Linked DNA regions of Homo sapiens. The protein of the gene in region 5 purifies or fractionates together with the protein of the main gene of each other region. This does not show direct contact. Each region holds a gene or a part of one and is shown on either strand. Other genes may lie near its edges. The genes, in order: VILL, DHX40, ADD3, RAB11FIP3, ASAP2, SEC24A and KATNIP.

Region 1 (3,450 bases), on a different chromosome or scaffold from region 5:
CTGTCAGGGTCAGTGTGGGAAAGGACACCCAGGCATTGTCTCCTGCCATGCAGAGGTGAGGTAAGGGAGGCGTCATCATCCCCAATATACAGGTGGGAAAGGCCCGAAGCTTAGAACAATGTCACTGCCAACACAGGGCCTACCTGGGATTTGACCAGAGTCCGCCTGGCTCCAGGCTCTGCCACCCACAGGAAGAAGAAACTACACTGACAGATGTGAGACAGTGTTTCCCCTTCAGTCTTTGAACAGGCTTTGTGTTTTCTAAATGACACTGGATAAAAGGGAATTCATTCAAGAGCTCCAAGGCTTCCCTTTCCGCCCGGCTTCTGTTGCCCTGGCCTGAGCAGCGAGCAGCTGGGAGGGGACTGAACTGCCCCTAACCAGGGTTGTGGCTGGTGGGGTTGGGACTAGGGCTGGGCATGTGGCTGGGATTGGGCCCATCTCCCAAGTGTGGTGGGTTTCAGGGGTCCGTGGGGAAAGGGTCACCTGCAGATCCTTGTACAAAGCCCAGCACAAGGCCCAGAATGGGCCTGGAGCTGAGGGTGGGCCCCTGGCCTGCGTGGATGAGGAAGGCCTCAGAGGCTGGGGAGAGCTTTCCGGTTGGGTACAGGATGGGTGGGCTGGTTCAGGAAGAGCAGCCACCTGTGCCCATTGGTCCCTTATTCCCCAGGTGTGGTGCATCCAGGACTTACACAGGCAGCCCGTGGACCCCAAGCGTCATGGACAGCTGTGTGCAGGCAACTGCTACCTTGTGCTCTACACATACCAGAGGCTGGGCCGTGTCCAGTACATCCTGTACCTATGGCAGGTGTGCCAGCCTGAGGGAGGCAGCACTCACCTTAAAGCCCAAGGGCTGGGCTCTGGGAGTGAAATGTGAGAGCTGGGCCAGGCCCTCACTCACTGCCCCCACCTGCAGGGCCACCAGGCCACTGCGGATGAGATTGAGGCCCTGAACAGCAACGCTGAGGAACTAGATGTCATGTATGGTGGCGTCCTAGTACAGGAGCATGTGACCATGGGCAGCGAGCCCCCCCACTTCCTCGCCATCTTCCAGGGCCAGCTGGTGATCTTCCAGGTAGGTCTCACCTTGCCACTCTGGCCACAGCCTGCCCAGTTCTGCATGGGCCATGGCCCCCGCACACACTTCTAAGCACCTTCTCTTTGGGCCTGGGGCCTGCTTATCATCCCCTAGTTTCCCAGAGCTTGTCCAAGGCCCAGGAGCTCCAAGGTTGGCCCCCTGCCTGAGTTTCCCTCCCCAGTCCCAGAGCCAGATGAGGAATTTGAGTTGAAAGGGAGCCAGGGGCTTGCCTGGGGCTGCACACTAGCAAACCTGGTCCCCACTTTCCACCTCCAAGGCCTGAGCACCCATGCCCCAACCACTCAGAGATGGGGGGAAAGGTCCATTTAAAAAGGGTCTGTCCCTGTCCCAGACTGATGGGATTCCTGCACTCCACACTTAGAGGGTCCTGTACTCCTCATGTGAAATCACCAGTGAGGGCCTTGATGGCTTCAAGCAAGGGTCCCTGAGCTCTGAGGCAATATGTCCCACACTGGGACAGGAAGGCGCCCCTGGGAGCCCTTGCCCAGCCTGAGGCCTTGCTCTCCTATAGGAGAGAGCTGGGCACCATGGAAAGGGGCAGTCAGCATCCACCACAAGGCTTTTCCAAGTGCAAGGCACTGACAGCCACAACACCAGGACCATGGAGGTGCCAGCCCGTGCCTCATCCCTCAACTCCAGTGACATCTTCTTGCTGGTCACAGCCAGCGTCTGCTACCTCTGGTTTGGGAAGGTACCCACAGCACTGACCACTTGATTCATGCCCAGATGTAGTGGTGCCAGGCTGGGGGTGGGTCCTCTCCACAGGGCATGCAGACTTTGAGTCCAGCCTCAGATAGGCCGATGGGGGGAATGGGGAGGGGAAGAAGCCACAGGGTCCCCTCTAGAACTTGGGGAAAGTTACAAAGTGACAGGTGGACCTGAGAGTCCGCAGGTCAGAGCCAGGCCCAGGCCGCCTCCCCTCCTTACTGCCTGGAGCACAGGGCATGTCCCTTCCCAGGTCTCTTGGGAAAAGGGGAGGCCTATGCCAGTTTGCTGGAGTTTTCTCTAATATTCAGCATAAACTATGACTGACCCTCTAAGCCTGGGGGCCTCCTATCCCATGCTCTGGACCCTGCGAGGGTCCCAGACCCTGCGATCCAGATCAACTGGGGACACAGGCCTGTAGGGTGAGGAAGATGCCTTGTTCACTGGTGTCCTGCTGTCAGCTTAGGCCTCCTGTGACTTGGGCCCAGCCCCACCCCATACACCCTGTGAACGGGACGTGGGGCCGGAGGTGAAGGCCCCTCCTCATGCAGGGCCTGAGCCATCTCTTTGCCTGCTAGGGCTGTAATGGTGATCAGCGTGAGATGGCACGGGTGGTGGTCACTGTCATTTCCAGGAAGAATGAGGAAACGGTGCTGGAGGGTCAGGAGCCTCCCCACTTCTGGGAGGCCCTGGGAGGCCGGGCCCCCTACCCCAGCAACAAGAGGTAACAGGGTTGGGAGGAGAGTGTTCTTACCCAGAGGAGGAATTGAGGCCCAGAGAGGAGGGTGGGTGACTGGGATTCACACAGAGAGCTGGCAAGACGAGACTAGAACCAAGGACTCTCAGTTTCCCACTCACAGAGGCTCCCACAAGTACAGCCCACGCTTCGCTCCCAGGCCTGGGTAACTTGCGTCTCTCAGATGCTGGGGAGAGTGGGGGCAGTGGCGACCTCTGCTGGCAGCATCCCCTCCCTGCATTGTCCTGGTCCTGGGCCAGGGGACAAAGCACCCTTCCCCACCCTACAGTCCTCAGGGATCACGGTGCCCAGTGTGTGTGTATACAGTGTCATATGATGTGTGGGTATACAGTGTGTGTGGATGTGCAAGAACAGGTGTATTCAGGGTGTTGTGTGTGGTGTGTAAGTGGACAGGGTGTGTGTAGGAGGTAGGAGTGAGGCCTCAAGGGGAGGAGGGAGCTGAGTCCTGGTCGCTCTTGGTCTGCCTGTGGGGCTTGGTTTATGTGCTGCACTCCCCACAATTCTCCTGAGCTCAGTACTCCCGTCTCCTTCTCCCAGCCTGGCTTGCCTCCTTCCACTTTGGGCCGGAGACCTACTCTCTGCCAGGGGTGGGCTGAGGAGCTCCTCCCATCCCAGGGAGGGCGAGACTCCAGCTCAGGCCCTCCCCTACCCCTGCAGCCCTCTCCTAGGGAAATTCATGGGGCACCTTGCGTCACAGCTGGGTGGGGCGAGAGCTTTCTCCATGAGCAGAGAGGGACCCTGTACCCAGAGCAGAGCGGAGTGCTCGGGGAGAAACCACGGGGCTCAGAGGAGGGCCCAGGGCTCCCACTCCTGAGAAGTGGCTTCCCAGGCCCTGGGGTGGGGCACTTGTGCCATGGGCTGGGGTGCCCCTCTGGGTGGCTCACAGCCT
Region 2 (3,500 bases), on a different chromosome or scaffold from region 5:
CACTGCACCTGTCCTCATTCCCTTTCATAATCCATTGTCTCACCTACTAGGCCCTCCTGCCCCACCAACCCAGGTAACCACTAATCTGCTTTCTGTCATGATACAGTAAGTCCTCACTTAATGTCATCAGTAGGTTCTTGGAAACTGTGAGTTTAAGCAAAATGATATACAGCAGGCCCTAGAAAAATATTGTTTTATTCACCATTGTTTTAACACTGATGAGAGAAAAAAAAAAATCTTAAAAATTTTGCTTAACTTTGCAGTTTTTAAGAACTTATCATTGACATTGAAGACTTACTGTATATAAGTTTGCATTTCCTAGCATTTTACATAAATGGAATCAAACAGTATATGCTCTTTTTTTTTTGGTCTGGCATCTTTTACTCCTCATGATTATTAGTTTTTCAATTTATATATCTTATTTTGGTAAAATAATTAATATAAAATTTACCTCTACTGGGCATTGATGATTAACCCCTGTAATCCCAATGCTTTGGGAGGACGAAGTGGGAGGACCACTTGAGGCCAGGAGTTCAAGACCAGCCTGAGAAACAGTGAGACCCTGTCTCTACAAAAAAATTAAAATAATTAGCTTGTTGTGTTGGCACACACCTGTAGTGCTAGCTACTCAGGAGGCTGAGGCAGAAGGATTACTTGAGTCCAGGAGTTTGAGGTTGCAGTGAGGTATGATGCCACTACACTCTAGCCTGGGCAACAGAGCAGCAGCACCCTGTCTCAAAAAAATTTTTTTTTTTTTTTTTTTTTACTGTTTTTATGCGTACAGGTCACTGCACACTTAAAACATTTACAATGTTGTGCAGCCCTTACCACTTCTCCATCTCCAGAACTTTTTTTTATCATCCCATACTATAATAAAACTCCATAACCATTCAACAATAACTCCCCATTCCCGACAGTGCATGGTAGCTCACGCCTATAATCCTAGCACTTTGGGAAGCCGTAGTGTGGGGATCACTTGAGCCCAGCAAGTTTGAGACCAGCCTGGGCAACACAGTGAGACCTTGTCTCTACTAAAAAAAAAAAAAAAAAATTAGCCAGGCGTTGTGGCACACACCTGTAGTGTCAGTTACTCAGCAGGGTGAGGTAGAGGATTGCTTGAGCCTAGGAGATCCAGGCTACAGTGAGCTGTGATCACACAACTTCACTGCAGCCTGGGTGACAGAGTAAGACCCTGACTCAAAACAAAAACAAAAAAACCTACCCATTATCTTCTTTCTCCAGCCTCTGGAAACCACTGTTATAATTTCTCTGTTTCGTTATGAGTGTTTTCTGTTTGCCTTATCTTAAAGTTCATTAATCTTTTCTCCTGCAGTGTCTAGTCTAATCTGCCATTAATCCCATCTAGTATATTTGTCATCTCAGGTGTTGTATTTTCATCTCTAGATGTTGGATTTCAGTCTTTAAATTTTTACATTTTATTTTTCAGGTCTCTACTTTTTGAACATATGTAATCCAGCTATACAGAAAATTATAATAAAATATAATTAGATCTGTGTCAGTTCTAGGTTGATTTTGATAGATGTCCTCATTATGGATTGTGTTTTTTTGCTTCTTTACATCATACCTGATAATTTTTCAGCGGATGCCAAACATTGTGAATTTCACCTTGTTGGGTGCTGGATATTTTTGTGTTCTAGTTACTTGGAAATGGTCTTTGGTCTTTCTTGTTGGGTCTTGCTTGCATGATTTGTTAGGTGGGATCAGAGCAGTGCTCAGTGCAGGGCTAGTTATTCCCCTCTACTGAGGCAAGGCCCATCTGAGTACTCTTCCTAACATCACATGAATTACTGTAGTGTAGTATTCTCATGTGGCTTATAGGAACAGGCGCCATTACTAGCCCTGTGAAAACACCATGCCCTTACTTATCCTTTTAAGAGGTTCTTTTCTTGGGCTGGTAGTTTCCTCACATTCATGTGCTAATCACTACTCAGCTCAACACTTGAGGAGGACCTTCTGCATCTCTCTGGAGTTGTGTCTTTGTGCACTTCTCTTCTCTCCTGAACTCTTGTCCTGTGAATTCTAGCCACCTTGGTCTTCCTGGACTCCCAGCTTTCTCTCCCTAACCCAGGGAGTTCTCTGAGTTCCATTTGGGCTTTACTTCCCTGTACCTTGGTCTGCAGTCTTTATCAAGGCTGAAGTTGGGGCAGTTGTTGGGCGTACTGCGTTTATTTCCTGTCTCTGTCCTTTATTGCCTGATATTACAGTGTTTTGGAAATCATTATTTCATGTATTTTTTCCATTTTTTTGGTTTCAGGTGGAAGGGTAAATCTGGTCTCTCTTAATCTATGTTGGCCAGAAACAGAGGTCTTTAGAAATGTGGATTTTTCAAAATAAAAGATTATTTCAAATTGTACTATGAGATTTACCACTCTCTACATATTCTTTTTATAGCAAAGTGATTTCCCAAAAGAGACCTTTGAAGGCCCTAAACATGAAGTACTACGAAGATGTCTTTGTGCGGGCTATTTCAAAAATGTAGCTCGAAGGTAAGCAATAAAGACTTGAGAGATGGATCAAGATATAATACTGTATTTGACTATAATATTGGACTATTTAATATTAAACATTGAAGATTTGATTTAAGCTCTGTGATGATTATGACATGAATTACAGTGACGAGGGAGAGCTACAGTGACGAGGGAGAGCTGCAGTGGCTCAGAATGTGGTATTAGAGCTCAAGTAGGGTAGGAGGGGTATGTTTGTAGGGTGGCTGTCCAGCATGGGTTATCTTCACTTAAGGCAAGTAACAAGAGTTTTCTTTCAGAGAGGTGGCCCTGTGTATAGTGTGAAAGCCAAGTAGGTTGAGCATAGCATCCCTGAGGAAGGGTAGCTTGGCATGGAGTGCTAGGGCTTGAGCAAGGTGGGGAGGGGTTATTTGGTTTGGGGCATCAGTCAGAGTGTAGTGAGGAAGGCATCTTTATAGAGAAAGGGGTAACAGTGATGGTGATGGAGATTCATTAAATACAGAGGAATTGAACACATAACTCTGTGAGTGATAATGGTGAAGGGAGTTAGAAATAGCGAAAGTGAGAAAATAGGAATGATCTCTGTGCTGTTGGATTGAAATTTCAGTGTATCATGATGAAGTTATGGGTTTCATTATAGATGGATGCATGGATGGACACTGGAATAAAAATAGATGTTAGTGTGTGTATATAGAATGTATTTGTATGTATGTAAATATTTATATGTATATATGCCCTAGCTCTGAGATAATAACAATGAATAGACATAGTGCCCAGATCTTGACTTGGGACATCCATCTGCCACTTAAAGGAGTCAGGGGTCTTTGGAGAAATGGGGCTGGGAAAATGCAAGATGAGCCCAGAATATCTTATTTTGCCAGCAAGTAAAGAAGTGATTAACAAAGGTTGAGGCCACGTCAGAAGAACATAGGAGCCAGCATGAAGAGGCCCCAAGTAATCAAATATGAGACACTTTAAGCATCAAAATAAGTAGTGATAGTAGCGGATTATTAT
Region 3 (3,500 bases), on a different chromosome or scaffold from region 5:
AGACAAATACCCCATGATCTCACTTATATACAGAGTCTTAAAAAGTTGAACTTGTTGGGCATGGCAGCTCACGCCAGTAATCCCAGCACTTTGGGAGGCTGAGGTGGGAGGACTGCTTGAGCCCAGGAATTCAAGACCAGCCTGGGCAACATGGAGAAACCCTATCTCTACAAAAAGTAAAAAAAAAAAAATAAATTAGCCAGGCACGGTGGCACACACGTTATGTCCCAGATACACAGGAGGCTGAGGTGGAAGAATGGTTTGAGCCCAGCAGGTTGAGACTGCAAGTGAGCCCTGATTGTGTCACGGCACTCCAAGCAAGATCCTGCCTCCAAGAAAAAAAAAAAAGTTGAACTCATAAAAGTAGAGTAGAATAGTGGTTACAAGGAGGTGGGGGTGGGGAGATGTTGATCAAAGGATACAAAATTTCAGTTAGGAGGAAAAAGTTCAAGAGATATATTGTACTATGGTGACTACAGTTAATAACAATATATTGTAATCTTAAAAAAAAAACACGACATTTGTAAGTTCTGTTTAATTCTCAAAGGTGTGGTTAAATAACAATGAAATGCTTTCCTAGGGCCAAACTCAGCTTCTGGAAGAGTATGGAGCATGTTCTACAAAAATGGAAGCATCTGCTCTTGAATCTGAAGACATTAAATCCAAGTTTTACTTCAATTTTGCAACCTACCAAGTTGTCCAGAGTCCTCATAAGCCCTTCAAACTCAATTTCGCCAACCTTCCATTTTTGATGGGAACCCATATTCACACCTCCTCCACCAGACGCTGCTACAGTGTAAGTGAAAGCTTTATACTTCTGAAAGTCCAGTACATGGAGATTGTCTACTCCACCTGCACCTGCTAGGGCCTGCACCTGTAATCAATGGTAAAATATACAGAGACACAAAACTATAAAGACTGTAATGAGTATTTTACTTTCAAAAAGGCACAATTTCAATTTGGCAAATATCTATAATACTTGCTCAGGCTACTAACAACAAAGACAAGATGACACTCTTGTGCCAGCAGACAGCTGAAGTATCTTTTCCACCTATCTGAAAAAGAAACCTTCCAAGACTCTGATCCTCCCTGATGGAAAACACATTAGAGCCATACCTCTTAACATATTTTAAGCCACGGAATTCTGCTGCCAAATTTTAAATTTCTTTTCTTGAAGTTTTCCCAGGGTTATCCAGTTAATACTTTTGCTAAAAGCTATAATTTTAAGGAAATACAAAAACACTGTACTTTGAATTTAAAGATATTTAGGCAGAAGCCATCAGCTCATTATCTTAATTTAATTAAGCTTTTCATAGCCCCATTTGAGAAGAGGAGGAACCATTAAAGCAAAAATAAGTTGATTGTTAGGACAAGTTAATGTTGGTAGAAAAAGTTTTTTTTTAGTTGTTCTTTTCCCCCTTTCTTGTGGCCCTTCCAATAAATTAAGATTATTACCATTTGCTTCATGAGAATTTGCTTTATTTATTTATTTATTTATTGAGGACTGAGTTTCACTCTTGTTGCCCAGGCTGGAGTGCAATGGCACGATATCGGCTCACTGCAAACTTCGCCTCCCGGGTTCAAGCGATTCTCCCGCCTCAGCCTCCCAAGTAGCTGGGATTACAGGCACATGACACCACGCCCTGTTAATTTTGTATTTTTAGTACAGACGGGGTTTCTCCATGTTGGTCAGGCTGGTCTCGAACTCCTGACCTCAGGTGATCTACCCAGCTCAGCCTCCCAAAGTGCTGGGATTACAGGCATGAGCTACCGTGCCTGGCCAAATCTGCTTGATTTAAAGAGAAAATTAGGGCCTTTAGTTTAATTAGATCCCATTTGTCAATTTTGTCTTTTGTTGCCATTGCTTTTGGTGTTTTGGACATGAAGTCCTTGCCCATGCCTATGTCCTGAATGGTAATGCCTAGGTTTTCTTCTAAGGTTTTTATGGTTTTAGGTCTAACGTTTAAATCTTTAATCCATCTTGAATTGATTTTTGTATAAGGTGTAAGGAAGGGATCCAGTTTCAGCTTTCTACATATGGCTAGCCAGTTTTCCCAGCACCATTTATTAAATAGGGAATCCTTTCCCCATTGCTTGTTTTTCTCAGGTTTGTCAAAGATCAGCTAGTCGTAGGTATGTGGCGTTATTTCTGAGGGCTCCGTTCTGTTCCATTTATCTATATCTCTGTTTTGATACCAGTACCATGCTGTTTTGGTTACTGTAGCCTTGTAGTATAGTTTGAAGTCAGGTAGTGTGATGCCTCCAGCTTTGTTCTTTTGGCTTAGGATTGACTTGGCGATGCGGGCTCTCTAGTTCAACCATTGTGGAAGTCAGTGTGGCGATTCCTCAGGGATCTTGAACTAGAAATACCATTTGACCCAGCCATTCCATTACTGGGTATATACCCAAAGGACTATAAATCATGCTGCTATAAAGACACATGCACACGTATGTTTATTGCGGCATTATTCACAATAGCAAAGACTTGGAACCAACCAAATGTCCAACAATGATAGACTGGATTAAGAAAATGTGGCACATATACACCATAGAATACTATGCAGCCATAAAAAATGATGAGTTCATGTCCTTTGTAGGGACATGGATGAAATTGGAAATCATCATTCTCAGTAAACTATCACAAGAACAAAAAACCAAACACCGCATATTCTCACTCATAGGTGGGAATTGAACAATGAGATCACATGGACACAGGAAGGGGAATATCACACTCTGGGGACTGTGGTGGGGTGGGGGGAGGGGGGAGGGATAGCATTGGGAGATATACCTAATGCTAGATGACGAGTTGGTGGGTGCAGCGCACCAGCATGGCACATGTATACATATGTAACTAACCTGCACAATGTGCACATGTACCCTAAAACTTAAAGTATAATTAAAAAAAAAAGAAAAAGAAAAAGAAAATTAGGGCCTTTAAATACATTCAACATCTCTGATGAAAAAAATGATTAATAAATATCCAACCTCTCATCATAATGAGGCTGTGGAATTGTTGAAAACTGCAATTTCATATAACTTCTGGACCTAGTCAAACTTTTTACAAAAGTGACCACAACACATTTGATTCTTGATTTGCAGCTGTTTTTCTTCCTTAATTAGTACCACCACTACAGGGTGAAAACAGAAATATGCAATTGTACTAACTTAAAAAGCAGGATTGTAGGGAAAATGATGTTTATGAGGCCCTTAGATTGTGTGTGAGAAAATTTTAATTTCCTTTACTCCTATTTTCAATTCAAGAGATAACTGAGTTGAAAACCCTGCCTACATAAGTAGAGCAGAACTTCTCTTAAAAGACAAAAAGCCACTAACTAATATGTATTTGCAAATAAGTACACAAAATCCAACTAAACGAGCAAATAACAAAGCAATTAAAAAAGGGGAATAATGTTTCCTACCTGAATCTCACAGGCTAGTTGCACATTAAAAATATAATGAAAAGCCTCCTCTAATGTTTCTCCAAGTGCAACCACACCATG
Region 4 (3,863 bases), on a different chromosome or scaffold from region 5:
CATCTCCATCTGCATCTGAGAGTGACAGGCAGGCGGGCATCTCGCGCGGGGGGCGGGAGAGCGAGAGCCGCAGATGCACAGTCCGCTTCCTGGATGCTGGACCAGGTGGTCCAGTTTTCAAGGCTTGTGTTTTTGGGGGACTCTTGATCAGATGGGACCACTCCCCGCAGGCCATTCTTTGTGGCTGCAGTGGCACTGAGCTCTCTCAGACTCCCTGGCTGCCCATGACCTCGGGAGCCCACTTCCGTCGGGACCTGCCTCCTCACCTTCCCGTGCCTGTGGTGCTGGTACTGTGTCTGCCCCCTCTTCTGGGGGATGTCCTCCCACCACCCTGCACATCACTGCCCTTTTAAATTCTTTCTGAAATGGGGTCTCGCTGTCGCCCAGGCTGGAGTGCAGCGGTGTGATCACAGCTCACTGTAACCTCCGTCTCCTGGACTCAAGCAATTCTCCCACCTCAGCCTCCCAAGGAACTGGGACTATAGGTGCGCACCACAATGCCTGGTTAATTTTTTATTTTTTAGAGATGGGGCCTTGCTATGTTGCCCAGGCTGGTCTTGAACTCCCGGGTTCAAGCGATCCTCCTGCCTTGGCCTCCCAAAGTGCTGAGATTATGGCGTGAGCCTCTGCGCCCTGCCCCCCACTCTTCTCTTAATCCCGGGGACGTTTTGACGGCTCTCCCGACATGGGACGTACGTCCCCAGAGGCGTGTGACCCAGAGCCCTGATGCCCACACAGCCCTGTGCTGCCCAATTTGCCCCGCCCCACCTGCCCCACCTTGATGCTGTCTCAGCAGCTCGTCAGGATCCAGAACCTGGCTGGAAAGCTGCCAGGCTCCACTGGGCCTGGAGGTGCAATCCTACGGCCTTGGAAGGGTCTTAGTCTGACCAAGCTGCAGAGCCAGGCAGGTCTGCTGGGTTCTGAGCTCAGACAACTGATGGCCTCGGACGCCTTGAGGGAAGCTGGGCCAGGCCCAGAAGACTCCCACCCCACCCTGTGGCCCCCCTGGAGGAAGAAGCCGGCCTCTGCGTGTGCAGTAACAGCTTTAATCTGTGGTGGCCCCTGCCCTCCTGCATCCAGGCAGGAAGAGCCGTTTCTCGGGGAATTAAAGCAGGAGCGTTTCCCACACTGTCTCCTGGGAGTCCATGCTTACAGTGACAGCACTGCTGAGTGGTGCCATGTCACCAGGGCTGGGCCTGGGCACAGAGAGGCAGGGTGCCAGTCTTTATATATTATACATATATATATATATATATATATATATATTTCATGTGTATACACAGTTTTCTCTTGAAAGTATTAAAAAATTGATCAACCTTCAATCTATAAAAAATACCTACTCTACATGATAGAAAAATCTCTCCTCCAAGTTTACACTGATTTACACCCAAGGCTTTCCCCAAATGTACAATAGGAGGCGACCTCTTACATCCTAGCGTGGAAGGCGGCGGATGTGGGGCCACACGTACACGCGCGCGCACACACACGCAGCGGGTGGCCAGTCTTGGTGATGGGGTCTGGGCCCACCCGGGAATGCTGGGGGTTGGGGCAGGCCCGCGGTCCTGCGGGGTGACACCGCTGTGCCTGGGGTGCAGACCCCGAGAAGCACAGGCCCCCTCCTGCTCTGCTGTGAGTCTTCCCTGCCCTCTCCCTCCTGCAACATGCACCCTCGGGGAAGAACCACGATTTCTAAGTGAGACACACCCAGAAGAAAACAGGGTTCCCGATGTTTGGATTCTGGCCTGGGAAGTGCGTGGGGAGGGTGTGGCCTTTAGGAGGCCGGGCCAGGCCGCACCTGTGGAGAAGCAGCACCTGGGAGCCAGAGGGGCCTGTGGCATCCACCCTGCCCAGGGAGAGAGCGCCACACAGCGGTCATCTCAGGTCCTGATGTCGGAGTGGAGGCCCCAGAGGCTCCTGCCCGGCCCCCATAGGTGGTCAGAGCCCCCAGGGGTTACTGCAGCGAGGACTGGGCCGTGGGAACAGCCACATGGCCTGGAGGCCCCAGAGCTGGACTGAGGTGACCACATCTGGCTGGGCAATGGCCCGAGCAGCGTAGGGAGAGCTGGGGAACGCACCAGCCTTGCCCACCCGTCCTTCCCCCACCACCATGTCCGAGGTGAGGGTCTGGGAGCCCGTCAGCCATCAGGAGCGGCTCAACATGGGTGACACGGCACCAGCGTACTTATGTGGGTGGCTTAGGCAGCAGCACCCCTGGAGGGACCTGTTTTCTTCCTTTCTTCCCAACAGGGCTGCACGTGGGAAGAGGGACCACCACAAGGAGGCCACAGCAGGGCTCACCCCACACCGCTGCACAGAGAGGCTCTCCAGCCCATCCTGCTGAACTGAAGTGTACGCGTTCATGGCCAGCTTGACTCAGGGCTGGGAAGCTCTGGGCCCCCGGAAGGTCAGCGCTGATGGACGGCCCTGCCACAACCCTCATCCTCTGTGGACCCCGGGCCCTGGGACTTCCCTTTCTCCCTCTCCTCTCCACCACCCTCTGCCCCTTTGGCAGCCCCGGTCTTTGGCGGCCCCAGCTCAGCTGCACGAGGGTTCCCTGCATGCTCTGGGCACTGTCGGCTGTGGGACCTGCTGGTCTTGGCTCCTCATGGTCTGACGGAACCACTCCAGGGTGTTGGAGTCCCGAATCCAGCTCAGGCTGGACCTTCCTGCCTCTACTTGACCTCCAGGATGGACGGGTTGGTCTCCATGATGGCCACGATGATCCTGTCGATGTAGTCCTGCAGGCGGAAGTTGATCTCCTCCTGCTTCTGAATCGCCTCCATGAGCTGTAGGGCAAGCAGGTGGTCAGAGCTGAGGCGCATGGGCCACAGGCCACAGCGCATAAACCACAGCGCACAGACAGTGCAGACTGTGGACCCCAGGCCACACCGTGCAGACACGGGATGTGTTACCTCATCTCGGGAGACGGAGCTGATCTCTGCAGCCAGGGACTCAGAGAAGGCTGTGGAGAAGAGGCTCTTGGCGCCCTGGATGCTGAGGGTAATGATCTGCCCGTTCAGCTCCTCGTTCTGCTCCTTCAGGTTGCGGTTGTCCTGAAGGCACAGCAACATCACTACTGGGCTGTGGCCCCTGCTGGTGGCTGAGCAGGGACAAGGACTGCCCGGGGAAAAAGGCCTCCAGCTCAGATGCTGACCCTCCACGGCCCCCCCTTCCCAACCAGTCTTGTGGAAGCTTCTGCAGGAGTGTGAGGGAGGGAGGCCCAGGCCTGCCCACCTGCTTCAGCCTGCGGACCTCCTGCTCCAGCTCGCTCTCCCGGGCGCGGCTGTGGTACTCCTGCAGGCCCATGCTGCTGCTGCGGCCCCGCCGCTGCTCGGCCTCCAGCTTGAGGAGCTGCAGGTGCTCCAGCTGCTTTCGGAGGTCCTCGATCAGCTGCAGGGCAACCGTGCAGTGAGCCGGGGGGCCTGGGCTCCCAGGGGCCACCGTCAGCCATCACTTGGCTGTAGAACCTCAGGGTTGATCTGGCCGTCTCTCGGGAGGACGACACACACCAGCGGCTATGCCCAAAGCAGCACAGCCAAGAGCTAGCGTCTCAGGAAACAAAGGCTCCCCGTGGGGCAGGCTGGGCGCAGGACTGGGCGTGGGGCAGGGTGGGTGCTCACCTCCTGGGTGGCCTCCTTGTCCCTCTGGAACTGGTGCCTCTCGTGACTCAGCCTGTCCCCCATTCTCCTCTTGTTCTCCTGCTCTTCACTGAGCCGCAGCGTCAGCGACTCTATCTCATCCAACAGCTTCTGCTTCTCCTGCAGGGGTGGACACCTGCCCTGGATGCGGGTCACGCACCTACCTGTGCATGCAGCTTGCCCCGGCCGTCTGTCCCTCCAATCTCTGAGTCTCCCAACAGCAAC
Region 5 (3,982 bases):
AGTGTCAGGAGACGGCTTTGTCTGACATATTGAATTTCCAGTGTCTCTCACACTTCCTCCTTTTCAGATGCACAAAAGGTTTTTGTAAAGTTTCTCTTGGTTTTACCGCTGGCAGCTACAGAAACCATGCCACAAGTCTGGTGTAGAGTTATAGGGTGTGATTTTATTTGACTGGTATCTTCAGAGCTTCTGGATTTTTCAGTATAACCGAGAATTTCCTTAAGAGCTGTAAATAAAAATCGGTACCAGTTCGAACCCTTTACTGGCCCGGTTTTGTGTGAGGTTGGCTGGCTGCTGTAGCACGTTCTCCCCCTCCTCCTCCTCCTGCACCCCCTCGGTTCCCTCCTCTGCCTGCGGGAATACCACTTCAGGGCGTTCAGCAGCCTTCCCAGGGTGGGTCCTGGCCTAGTACCCTAAAACTATAACCGAGAATACCTATCATTGGGCAGCCTAGGAAACGCGACTGGGACTTTTAGTAGGGGCCCCTCACCGCTCTGAAGCACTCACACTTGAGTCAGGGAACATGGGTTTGAATCCCCACCCGGCCGTTTATCTTGTGCTCTTGGGCACACTGTGTCCCCTATATAAAATAAGCACCCATCTCTTCATCTGTCTCCTAGGCCTGCGACGATGCAATGACTGCACGCAAAGCGCACATTCACGGTCAGGTCACTTCTGGCGTCCGGCTGTGGTCCCCGCAGGGTGCCCGCCGGCGGAGCGCATCCTCCGGCAGGGGGCGAGCTCCGCACCCCGCTTTCCTCATGGGCCGGCGCGGCCCGCCGTTCAAGTGGGGAGCCCAGAGGTGCTCCGCGCCGTGGGCGGGGGGCGGTTGGCGCGCACAAGGCCGGACTCCGGCGGGGCGCACCTCCACACGCACCCTCGCGGGCAGCGGGTCGGAGTCGGGGCCTCGGGCCGGCTGGGGGCGGGGCATGGGCGCGGCGCGCGGGGCCCGGAACGCCGAGACAATGCGGCGCGCGGCGGCCAGGAACGGCTCGGCGGGCCGGGGCGCGCGCCGCCTTCCTTCCTGCGGGATCCGCTTCCCGGCGGCGCGGCAGCGGCGAGCGCGCCGATTGGCGGCCCGGTCCTCCCGCCGCCCCGCCCCACGCCCGGCCGGCCGCCGCCCCCGGCCCGGACCCGCCCCTCTCCGCGGGAGGCGTCGGGGCCCGCGGCTGGGTGGCGGGTAGTTCCCGCCGGCTGTGCGCGCCCGCCTCGGGGCTCGCTCTGAGAGGACGCGGCGGCAGCGGACTCGGAGCCCTCGGCGCGCAGGCGGGCGGACCGGCCGAGCTGCGCGGGGCTGCGCGCCGCCCCTGCTCCGCCGCCAGGCCCCGCGCGGCTCCCGCGCCCGGCGCTCCCCTTTGTCCGCGGGCCGGAGCGGCGGCGGCAGCGGCGGTGTCCGAGCGGCGGTCGGAGCCTGCTGCGGCAGTTGAGGCGGCGGCGCCCCTGCGGCTGTGCGCCAGCGCCCTCGCGCCGAGGCGATGCCGGACCAGATCTCCGTGTCGGAATTCGTGGCCGAGACCCATGAGGACTACAAGGCGCCCACGGCCTCCAGCTTCACCACCCGCACGGCGCAGTGCCGGAACACTGTGGCGGCCATCGAGGAGGTGAGGCGGCCTGCGCGGCGGCTCCGGCCGCAGGTATCCCGCGCCCCAGCCCCGCCCGCCGCTCCCGCATCCGCATCCCGAGAAAACTTTCTTTGCTCCGAAGCCGGACGCGGCCGGGCCAACCCTGCCCGAGACAGAAGCCCTTTGTTCCCGCCTAGGTGGCTCGGAGGAGATGGGTGATGGCCACCTTGGGCCTCTTTAAGACCTCCCCTCTCTCGGCCTCGTGGCCCTCGCGGGGTTCCGCGGCCTGGTCTTTTCCCCGCAGCGCGGCCAACTTTGTCCAGAGTCGGGGTCCGCGGCGAGCGGGGGATCCCGCTGCCCGCCGCCGCCCGCCGCCGCCCGGGGTCTTTGGTACCCGGTGCGGACCTTATCAACTTGTTCTTGAAGTGGACCGGCGGGGGCAGCTCCGCGCTCCGAGCTCCCCGCCGCAGCCCCCGAGCGCCGCAGGGCCCCCACCCTCGGGTCCGCGGGTCCGGGGCATCCCGGGCTGCCCGGGAAGGCGTGCCCGCCTCAGCCAGGGCGGCCTGGCTGCGCTCCACCCGTGCCCGGAGAAGGAACTGCGGGCAAGGTGTGTGAGAGTCGGCGCTTCTGGGTCCAAGAAGCCTCCAGGAGCCGCTCCCCGGTTACCTGGGTCTCACCTGCTTGAACCCGGAATGCCGCCCTTCCCCCTCAACCTGGAAAAGGCCTGGTTTTAGTAAAGTGCTCTCAAGGTGCAAAGTCATCACGCCTAGCTGCTAAGCAGTACGCTCTCCAGGTCCTGGGGAGAGGAACACGTAGGAACGAAGAAGCTTGGTTGAAAATTAAAGCCGTGGGGAAAGGGGCAGAGTCTGTGAGTCCAGGGGCCACCGTTGGCTGTGGTTTGAGGCACATCCTCACCTGCAGTCCTCCTTTTCCTTACCCATCAAACGGGATTAGTAATGCATCCTTTCCAGGATCAGAGACTGTGTGAAGTGCTTAGCACTCTGCTCGGCTCAGAATAGGTTTACAAGTCACACGTGTGGCAATAGTGAATCTGTGATTAAATGTCTCTGGGCCAGGATGTCAGGTTACAGTTTTAAAATTGGGTATTGCAGGTGTTTTAGCAGAAGACGCCTGGGCTAGCAGGAGTGTGTGTGTGGGTGGGGGGGTGGGTGTCACCAAAGAGCTTTAAATGAAGCAATGGCGTTATTTTTTTTTTCTGGTTTTTTTTTTTTTTTCCCATTTGAACAAAGCATCTGCTATTAGGAATTGCTTGAAAAAAAATCCAGAATGTTTTCCCTTAATGGAAAAATTTTTTCTTTGTAGCTGTAAACAGTCAATAAAAGGGAGTCAAAAGTAACATTCAGCATTCTGAATCCTGTTAATATAACTTGGGTAGCCTTCCTTCTCTCCATTTAATTTGGCGGAAGAGAGCTGCATGTAAACCTTTCCTATGAATTCGGTGATTCCCCAGATCACTTAATTCTACTTTTAGCAGCAAGGCTTACAGATGATGCCTTCAAATGAGGCAGATGGGGATGGGTGAATGAAATTTTTTCCTAAGTGCCAGTTAAAAAGCACGGTGTTTTGAGAATACACCATTAATAATGTTTATGGAATGATTGCAACCAAAAAGGTAGCTGAATATTTCTTAAGGGAAGGAAGCATTGTGCATGATGTCTTTCTTTAGAAAGCTTGATTATGTTTAAAGTTCTGTTGCTTTTCCCCACTGCAGTTTGTCAGTTAAATATTATTAACACTGGCAGATGTTGGAAAGCCAAGCAAACAAGAATTGCTATTAAAATTGGCATACCTTTCTCTGATTAATTTTAGTTTACAGTGTATAATTCCAAAGCTCTTTTTGTATGCTGTGCAGGAGATTACCCTAGAGCTCAGTTACTGAGCAGATTACAAAGAGACTGGATTTGGTCATTTCATTAAATTGCAAGCTTGCTTCATGCTGCCGTCTAAGCCCAAGAATTGGTTCAAGTCTCAAAATGGAAAAATTAAAATCATTTCAGGTTTATTTCACTTTAAGCAAATCTACATACATGCTATGATGATGGTATGTGTGAGCTTGGTTTTATAACTAAATTTGAAAGTTGTTCACTTTCTGAGGTAAATCAATGTGGATTTCTTTAAATAATGCTCTTTCCCAGGTGTCTAATGTTCGTGTCTATTACCAAAACTTGTTCTATGTATGGTTTAATAACAATTGATGTGTACAGTATTTTGGTTTTAAACAAAAATCTTCTCATACTGAGACGAAACATGAGAGGGTATCATGACATAAAGTTACTCATTTAACAAATAAATAAAATTTGCAAGCTCTTGGTCTTATGTTTAAACAAATGAATCACGGAACTAGCAAACTAATTTTATATTTATTTATTTATTTGTTACGGAGTTTTGCTCTTGTTGCC
Region 6 (3,500 bases), on a different chromosome or scaffold from region 5:
AGGAGTTCAAGACAAGCCTGCCAACATGGTGAAACCCCATCTCTACTAAAAATACAAAAAATTAGCCAGGTGTGGTGGTGGGCACCTGTAATCCCAGCTACTTGGGAAGCTGAGGCAGGAGAATCACTTGAACCTGCGAGGCAGAGGTTGCAATGAGCTGAGATCTCGTCACTGCACTCCAGCCTGGGCAACAAGAGCGAGACTCTGTCTCAAAATAAATAAATAAATAAATAAAAATAAAAATAGGGGGCCAGGAGCAGTGGTTCATGTCTATAATACCAGGACTTTGGGAGACCGAGGCAGAAGGAACACTTTTTTTTTTTTTTTCTGAGACGAAGTCTCACTCTTGTCCCCCAGGCTGGAGTGCAATGGCGCAATCTCGGCTCACTGCAACCTCCGCCTCCTGGGTTCAAGCGATTCTCCTGCCTCAGCCTCCGGCAGCAGCTGGGTCCACAAGTGCGCGCCACCACGCCCGGCTAATTTTTGTATTTTTAGTAGAGATGGGGTTTCACCATATTGGCCAGGCTGGAGGCTGATCTCAAACTCCTGACCTCGTAATCCACCCGCCTCGGCCTCTCAAAGTGCTGGAATTACAGTCGTGAGCCACCACGCTCAGCCTGAAATTTTTCAAAATGTTTCACCAATACTGTTAAATACTCCAGTATCAAGTTGAAAAATTGCCTATTAGGCTGGGTGCAGTGGCTCACGCCTGTAATCCCAGCACTTTGGGAGGCTGAGACAGGTGGATCACAAGGTCAGGAGTTTGGGACCAGCCTGGCCTATATGGTGAAACCCCGTTTCTACTAAAAATACAAAAAATTAGCTGGGCGTGGTGGCGCATGCCTGTAATCCCAGCTACTAGGGAGGCTGAGGCAGAAGAACTGCTTGAACCTGGGAGGCGGAGGTTGCAGTGAGCCGAGATTGCGCCACTGCACTCTAGCCTGGGCGACAGAGTAAGGCTCCGTCTCAAAAAAAAAAAAAAAAAAAAAAAAGAAAAAGAAAAATTGCCTATTACTGAATCTTACAACTGCTAACAAGACTATCAGTGCCTTGTTGACAAAAGTGAAGACAAAGATTATTGCCATGTAACTCCCTTATCAAAGAAGTGGTCACACATATCTATGGCAGTATAGACAAGTCAAAGGAACAAAGGGGCAAGGTACATGGCCAACTCAGCATGAACAAGAATGTAAAATACATCTGGCCACAAAGATGTAACCTACAACCTAATGTTTAACGAATAAAAGTAAACTTACAGAGATTTTCACAGCTTTTAGAAGACTATTTTTGAACAGATAATCATATATTTCATAAAATGAACATTTTTTCAAGTTGAAGAATTCTTATTTACGACACTGATAGCTAGAGTTTCAGAGTCTGCCCTCTCAGCCCCTAAATGAGTATAATGATGCTTAAAGGTGACCTATTAAAAAAATTCAGGAAAATTTAATATATGAACTAAAAACTTAGTATAACCTAAATACTCACAGCTTTGATACCAGACTATCAGGTACCAACTCTCAGTTATGAGTTGGAAAAAAGAAAAAAAATGAGGAATTTGAAGGTTCTTTGAAGGTTCAAATGAGAAAAAAGAAGGTTACTTTTTAGGTTCATTTTATTAGTTTATATGTTTTTATTTCCCCTTCTTTCATAAGTTTCAGCACTTTTTTTTTTTGAGATGGAGTCTTGCTCTGTCGCCCAGACTGAAGGTAGTGGTGCAATCTCAGCTCACTGCAACCTCCGCCTCCCAGCTTCAAGCGCTTCTCCTGCCTCAGCCTCCTGAGTAGCTGGGATTACAGGCACGTGCCACCATACTTGGCTAATTTTTGTATTTTTAGTAGACACGAGGTTTTCACCATGTAGGCCAGGCTGGTCTCGAACTCCTGCCCTCAGGTGATCCACCCGACTCAGCCTCCCAAAGTGCTGGGCTTACAGGCGTGAGCCACCATGCCCAGCCTCAGCACTTATTTATGTCTCTCTCACCAAATCTGTAGTGGAGACAAGGTGCTCTGAGGGTTTCTATTATAGCTAAAGAAATTTCAGATTATTGATAATGTACCTTTTTAAGAGAAGCTACACCTACTCTTAGTATTTATTTATTTTTAAATAAAATTATTTAAAAAAATAGAGATGGGGTCTTGCTATTTTGCTCAGGCTAGTGAACTCCTGGCCTCCTGGCCTCAAGTGGATCCTCCTGCCTTGGACTCCCAAAGTGCTAGGATTATAGGCGTGAGCCACCACGCCTGGCCCTTAAATAGTTTTTAAATAAATGTTTTCCCAAACTATTTTACTGTGGCTTTGGGCAAATTATTCAAGTCTTATACTTTAGATCTGTAAGAGACTGTTACGAAGATTAAACAAGATAATGCAGGCCTGGCTAGGTGGCTCACACCTGTAATCCCAGAACTTTAGGAAATCCAGGCAGCAGGATGGCTTGAGGTCAGCAGTTACAGCAAGCTATGTTGCAGTTAAGTGAGCTATGATCGTGTTACCCTACTCTACCCTGGGCGACAGGGTAAGACCCTGTCTATACAAAAAAATAAAGAACAAAAGATTAGCCAGGCACTGTGGCACGCCTACTCAGGGAGGTGAGGCGGGAGGATAGCTTGAGCCCAGCAGTTTGATGACACTAGGATTGCACCACTGCACTCCAGCTTGGGAAACAGAGAGACAGCCTATCTCTAAAAAATAAAAAGCAAAACAGAAAAACAGATAATGATATCAAAGTTTGATAGAGCCTGGAAAATAATATAGATAACATTTTTTTTAACACTTAAATTTTTTTTTTAGACCAAGTCTCACTCTGTCACCTAGGCCGGAGCGCAGTGGCACAATCATAGCTCACTGCAGCCTCAATTGCCAGAGCTCAAGCAATTCTCCCACCTCAGCCCCCCGAGTAGCTGGGACCACACATTCATTCATTCAAGTGATTGATGTGTGCCACCATATTCATTCATTTCAAGTGATTGATGCTCACTCATGGTATCAAATGAATTAGAACAAAAGTAACATGAAGGATTTTAGCTCTACTAATTGCAGGTCAGAAGATTTCCACAAAGAAACTTAAGTTTCTAGAAGCAGCTTTAATCTTTACAAGGCCAAAATGCATTCACCAGGGCCAATGTCTGATCAAAGGCTTGGAAAAATAAAGTTTCAGCCATTAACAATTTACAAGCCTGATGGAGTATATGCCATATAAACATACATAAGGTTAAAAAGGTAACTATTGATATTACTATTTCACTTGGAAGCCTACACTATTTCATAAACTTGAGGCTGTCTGCTGAGAAGTATCAACCTGCAGATCCCAATACAGAATTTTAAATGCTTTTCAAAGAAATATTGGCTCACACCTGTAATCACAGCACTTTGGGAGGTCAAGGCGGGCGGATCACGAGGTCAGGAGATCGAGACCATCCTGGCTAACACGGTGAAACCCCGTCTCTACTAAAAATACAAAAAATTAGCCGGGCGTGGTGGCGGGCACCTGTAGTCCCAGC
Region 7 (3,500 bases), on a different chromosome or scaffold from region 5:
GAATTTATCCCATCATCGGCATGGTTCTGCACCCCGTCGTGTGAAGAAATCATCCGGAGAACTTGTTCTGAGTCCAGAAGTTACCTACAGGCTGCCTTGAGGCAGTGGTCCTCACACGGCATCCTCCTGGCTCCCTTCCAACTGCAGCTGCCGTGAACATGGGACAGTCCCCGCATGTGGACAGTGCCCTGCCTCAGGTGCTCGTGGGGTGCTCTGCCGTGGGAGCACACTCAGCTCGTGCATGTGTTGGGGCATCAGTGCCCTGAGGGCAGCCTTCAACAAGCAGTGGATAAATGTCCCAGTCTTGGAGAGACATTTGCGACATGCATTTAAGCAGAAGACTCCCATGATCTGATTTCAGTTAAAAAAAAAAAAACTCACTGCTGCATAGAAAATGAAGTGTGAGTGCAGGGATTTGGAGGAGACAACGCAGAGTGGAAGCAGAGAGACCAATTAGGAGGCGGCAGTGGTGTCTCTGGTAGAGACCCTGGTGGCCTGGGCAAGGAAGGCAGCAGCACATTCCAGGTAAAGAGGTCAGACCCAGGAAGTGTTCTGGAGAGAGAGGCGAGGGACAGCTGGCGGATTGGATGGGCAAGTGAGAAAGAGAGGGATCAAGGGGGCCACGAGGTTTTTGGCCACTGCTTCAATGATGGAGCCATTTTTAAGATAGGTGAAGACTAGGGTTGGGGAAAGTGAGATCTTGGAGTGCCGCAGAGGGCCCCCGTGGGAAGGAGCACCAGTTGGCCACAGCAGTGACCAGCTCAAAAAAACTGGGTTTTTCCTTTTTCCTGCCCTATCTTGCTTTCCCCATTTCCTCTTGGAATCACCTGCCAAATACTCGACTTGCACCCGAGTCCTTGTCTCAGCCTCTGCTTTTACGGTCTCCCAATTATGATGCCCACGGAGGCCAGGAAAGCTGTTTTATAAGCACTCCAGGCTTTTCGACGCAGATGGTCTCAGGAACTGGACTTTAAAGAACACTGCTATAGGCTGTGAAAAAACATGAAGGATTTCACACAGGGGAATGACTGGACAGATTTGCTCTGGTAGGAAATGAACTCTGGTGGCAATGTGAAGTCCAAGTTAAAGTAGCAAGAGACAGGAAGCAGGGAGACCCATTAGTAGGCTATTACGAATGTCCCGACAGGAGGTAATGATGACGAAGGCAGCGATTGAGGCCGTCTCTTTGTGAAAGTCCTTTGATTTATAGAGTATGTAGCGGTTCCCACAGAAATGAGACCAAGCCTAGTTTCACACCCCCAGCACTGTGGTTTTCAAAAGCTTGCATTTCTAGCATTTCACATTTTCTTTTCTTTTTTTGGTATCTTCGACTTCCAAAATTTCATACATCAGTCTGATGCTATGCATCTTCACTTTGTTAAATCTTATGGTTTCAGGATCTTGACATTGGTGCCAAGAACGTGAAGCTTTACGTCAACAGAAACCTCATCTTCAATGGCAAGTTAGACAAAGGAGATAGGGAGGCCCCAGCTGACCACAGCATCCTGGTTGACCAGAAGAACGAGAAGAGCGAGCAACTAGAGGAGGCCATGAACGCTCACTCGGAAGAAAGCAAAGGCACCCATGAGATGGCTGGTGCCAGCGGGGACAAGGAGCTTGGTCTCGGTTGCTCACCGCCAGCTGAAACATTAGCGGATGCAAAGCTTTCTTCACAAGGAAATGTGTCTGGCAAAAGAAAGAATTCTACTAATTGCAGGAAAGACAGTTTGTCCCAGTTAGAGGAATATTTGAGACTGTCGGCAGTCCCCACTTCGATGGGTGACATGCCCAGTGCTCCTGCCACTTCCCCACCTGTGAAGTGCCCTCCTGTCCATGAGGAGCCCTCTCTCATCCAACAACTGGAAAACCTCATGGGCAGAAAAATCTGTGAGCCACCCGGGAAAACCCCATCCTGGTTACAACCTTCTCCCACCGGCAAGGACAGGAAGCAGGGAGGCAGGAAGCCAAAACCCCTCTGGCTTAGTCCCGAGAAGCCCCTGGCCTGGAAGGGCAGGCTCCCATCAGACGATGTCATCGGTGAGGGTCCTGGAGAGACCGAGGCCAGGGATAAAGGCCTACGGCATGAGCCAGGGTGGGGGACCAGCCGGAGTGTCAACACCAAGGAGAGACCCCAGAGGGCAACCACCAAAGTCCACAGTGATGACTCAGACATCTTTAACCAGCCCCCCAACAGAGAGCGCCCTGCTAGTGGGAGGAGGGGCTCAAGGAAGGATGCTGGCAGCAGTAGTCATGGGGACGACCAGCCAGCCAGCAGAGGTAAGCTCCAAAGAGCAGCCCGACTTGGGCATCATCATCCCAGCCCCTCTAATTGGCATGAAGCCAGTTAGCTCCTGGACCTCAGTTTCCTTATCTGCACAACAAGATGGTTGTTCTCAACTAAGGGTCACAAAATCACTGTCTCAGGGGCCAAAGAGATGCATACATGAGTGAAATGGGCAAGACACATTTTGCATGGTAAATTCATAGATGTATTTGTCATTGCCACCAAGGTATGTCCCTTTGCCCATTTTTCTTGCAACACATGGCTTTTCCAAGCCATTTTCCAAAAGACTTTGTTCTCCTGCCTTTCATAGAGACATCGGTCTCTAGTCACTTCACTTTATCCTTAACTGTACTGTTAGAAAAATAGCTGGGTACAGTGGCCAGGCCTGTAATCCCAGCACTTTGGGAGGCTTAGGTAGGAGGATCGCTTGAGCCAAGGAGGTCGAGGCTACGGTGAGCCATGATTGCGCCACTGCACTCCAGCCTGGGTGACACAGCGAGACTCTGTCTCAAAGAAAAAAAAGAAAAAATAATAACACAAGTGTGATGATGCATAGCAATTGACACTTGCCTGAGTGTTGGAAGTGGCACAGGGAATAGTGAGGACTTTGGCAATTTGGAGACCATAAGCCCACCCACAGGGCGGCTGCCACTCCACTCAGGTTTCTAATAAGCATTTAGGAGTGCAAGGCCAGGCCGGGCGCAATGGCTCACACCTGTAATCCCAGCACTTTGGGAGGCCGAGGCGGGCAGATAACCTGAGGCCAGGAGTTCGAGACCAGCCTGGCCAACATGGTAAAACCCTGACTCTACTAAAAATACAAAAATTAGCCAGGCATGTGGTGCGTTCCTGTAATCCCAGCTACTTGGGAGGCTGAGGCAGGAGGATCACTTGAACCTAGGAGGTGGAGGCTACAGTGATCCGAAATTGTGCCACTGCACTCCAGCCTGGGCAAGAGAGTGAGACTCCGTCTCAAAAAAAAATAATGAATGCAAGGCCACTGTACCAGACCTCCTCTTTACTTTTTTCAAGAGAAACCAGAAATGTTTCTTATTTTTTGACTTTGGCAACTGATTGAGATTATTTTTAAACTACTGTATATGTCAAAAAAAAAAAAAAAAGGCACATCTGCTGGCAGGACTCACCCTGAGAGCTTTGTGAACTTTGCAGTAGATGATTAGATGGTCTTCAAGGGCATTCCTGATTATGAAAGGAG

Evidence for each region.
Region 1: the proteins of ASAP2 (region 5) and VILL purify together in Homo sapiens (co-immunoprecipitation; one large-scale study listed by IntAct). This does not show direct contact.
Region 2: the proteins of ASAP2 (region 5) and DHX40 fractionate together in Homo sapiens (co-fractionation; one large-scale study listed by BioGRID). This does not show direct contact.
Region 3: the proteins of ASAP2 (region 5) and ADD3 fractionate together in Homo sapiens (co-fractionation; one large-scale study listed by BioGRID). This does not show direct contact.
Region 4: the proteins of ASAP2 (region 5) and RAB11FIP3 purify together in Homo sapiens (affinity purification with western blotting, with the first as the bait; one study listed by BioGRID). This does not show direct contact.
Region 6: the proteins of ASAP2 (region 5) and SEC24A fractionate together in Homo sapiens (co-fractionation; one large-scale study listed by BioGRID). This does not show direct contact.
Region 7: the proteins of ASAP2 (region 5) and KATNIP purify together in Homo sapiens (tandem affinity purification; one large-scale study listed by IntAct). This does not show direct contact.

Annotation. Positions count from the first base shown.
Region 1 is NC_000003.12:38,000,786-38,004,235, forward strand, and holds part of VILL (villin-like protein), read left to right. Parts: intron 1-670; coding exon 671-808; intron 809-916; coding exon 917-1,075; intron 1,076-1,610; coding exon 1,611-1,790; intron 1,791-2,382; coding exon 2,383-2,528; intron 2,529-3,450. UniProt on the Homo sapiens protein: Possible tumor suppressor.
Region 2 is NC_000017.11:59,600,110-59,603,609, forward strand, and holds part of DHX40 (probable ATP-dependent RNA helicase DHX40), read left to right. Parts: intron 1-2,412; coding exon 2,413-2,507; intron 2,508-3,500. UniProt on the Homo sapiens protein: Probable ATP-dependent RNA helicase.
Region 3 is NC_000010.11:110,119,484-110,122,983, reverse strand, and holds part of ADD3 (gamma-adducin), read right to left. Parts: coding exon 3,420-3,500; intron 875-3,419; coding exon 692-874; intron 1-691. UniProt on the Homo sapiens protein: Membrane-cytoskeleton-associated protein that promotes the assembly of the spectrin-actin network. Plays a role in actin filament capping. Binds to calmodulin.
Region 4 is NC_000016.10:519,649-523,511, reverse strand, and holds the end of RAB11FIP3 (rab11 family-interacting protein 3), read right to left. Parts: intron 3,759-3,863; coding exon 3,621-3,758; intron 3,391-3,620; coding exon 3,235-3,390; intron 3,054-3,234; coding exon 2,913-3,053; intron 2,787-2,912; coding exon 2,673-2,786; 3' UTR 501-2,672; downstream 1-500. UniProt on the Homo sapiens protein: Downstream effector molecule for Rab11 GTPase which is involved in endocytic trafficking, cytokinesis and intracellular ciliogenesis by participating in membrane delivery. Recruited by Rab11 to endosomes where it links Rab11 to dynein motor complex.
Region 5 is NC_000002.12:9,205,630-9,209,611, forward strand, and holds the start of ASAP2 (arf-GAP with SH3 domain, ANK repeat and PH domain-containing protein 2), read left to right. Parts: upstream 1-1,182; 5' UTR 1,183-1,475; coding exon 1,476-1,601; coding exon of another isoform or gene 1,602-1,634; intron 1,635-3,982. UniProt on the Homo sapiens protein: Activates the small GTPases ARF1, ARF5 and ARF6. Regulates the formation of post-Golgi vesicles and modulates constitutive secretion. Modulates phagocytosis mediated by Fc gamma receptor and ARF6. Modulates PXN recruitment to focal contacts and cell migration.
Region 6 is NC_000005.10:134,662,285-134,665,784, reverse strand, and holds part of SEC24A (protein transport protein Sec24A), read right to left. Parts: intron 1-3,500. UniProt on the Homo sapiens protein: Component of the coat protein complex II (COPII) which promotes the formation of transport vesicles from the endoplasmic reticulum (ER).
Region 7 is NC_000016.10:27,738,644-27,742,143, forward strand, and holds part of KATNIP (katanin-interacting protein), read left to right. Parts: intron 1-1,397; coding exon 1,398-2,277; intron 2,278-3,500. UniProt on the Homo sapiens protein: May influence the stability of microtubules (MT), possibly through interaction with the MT-severing katanin complex.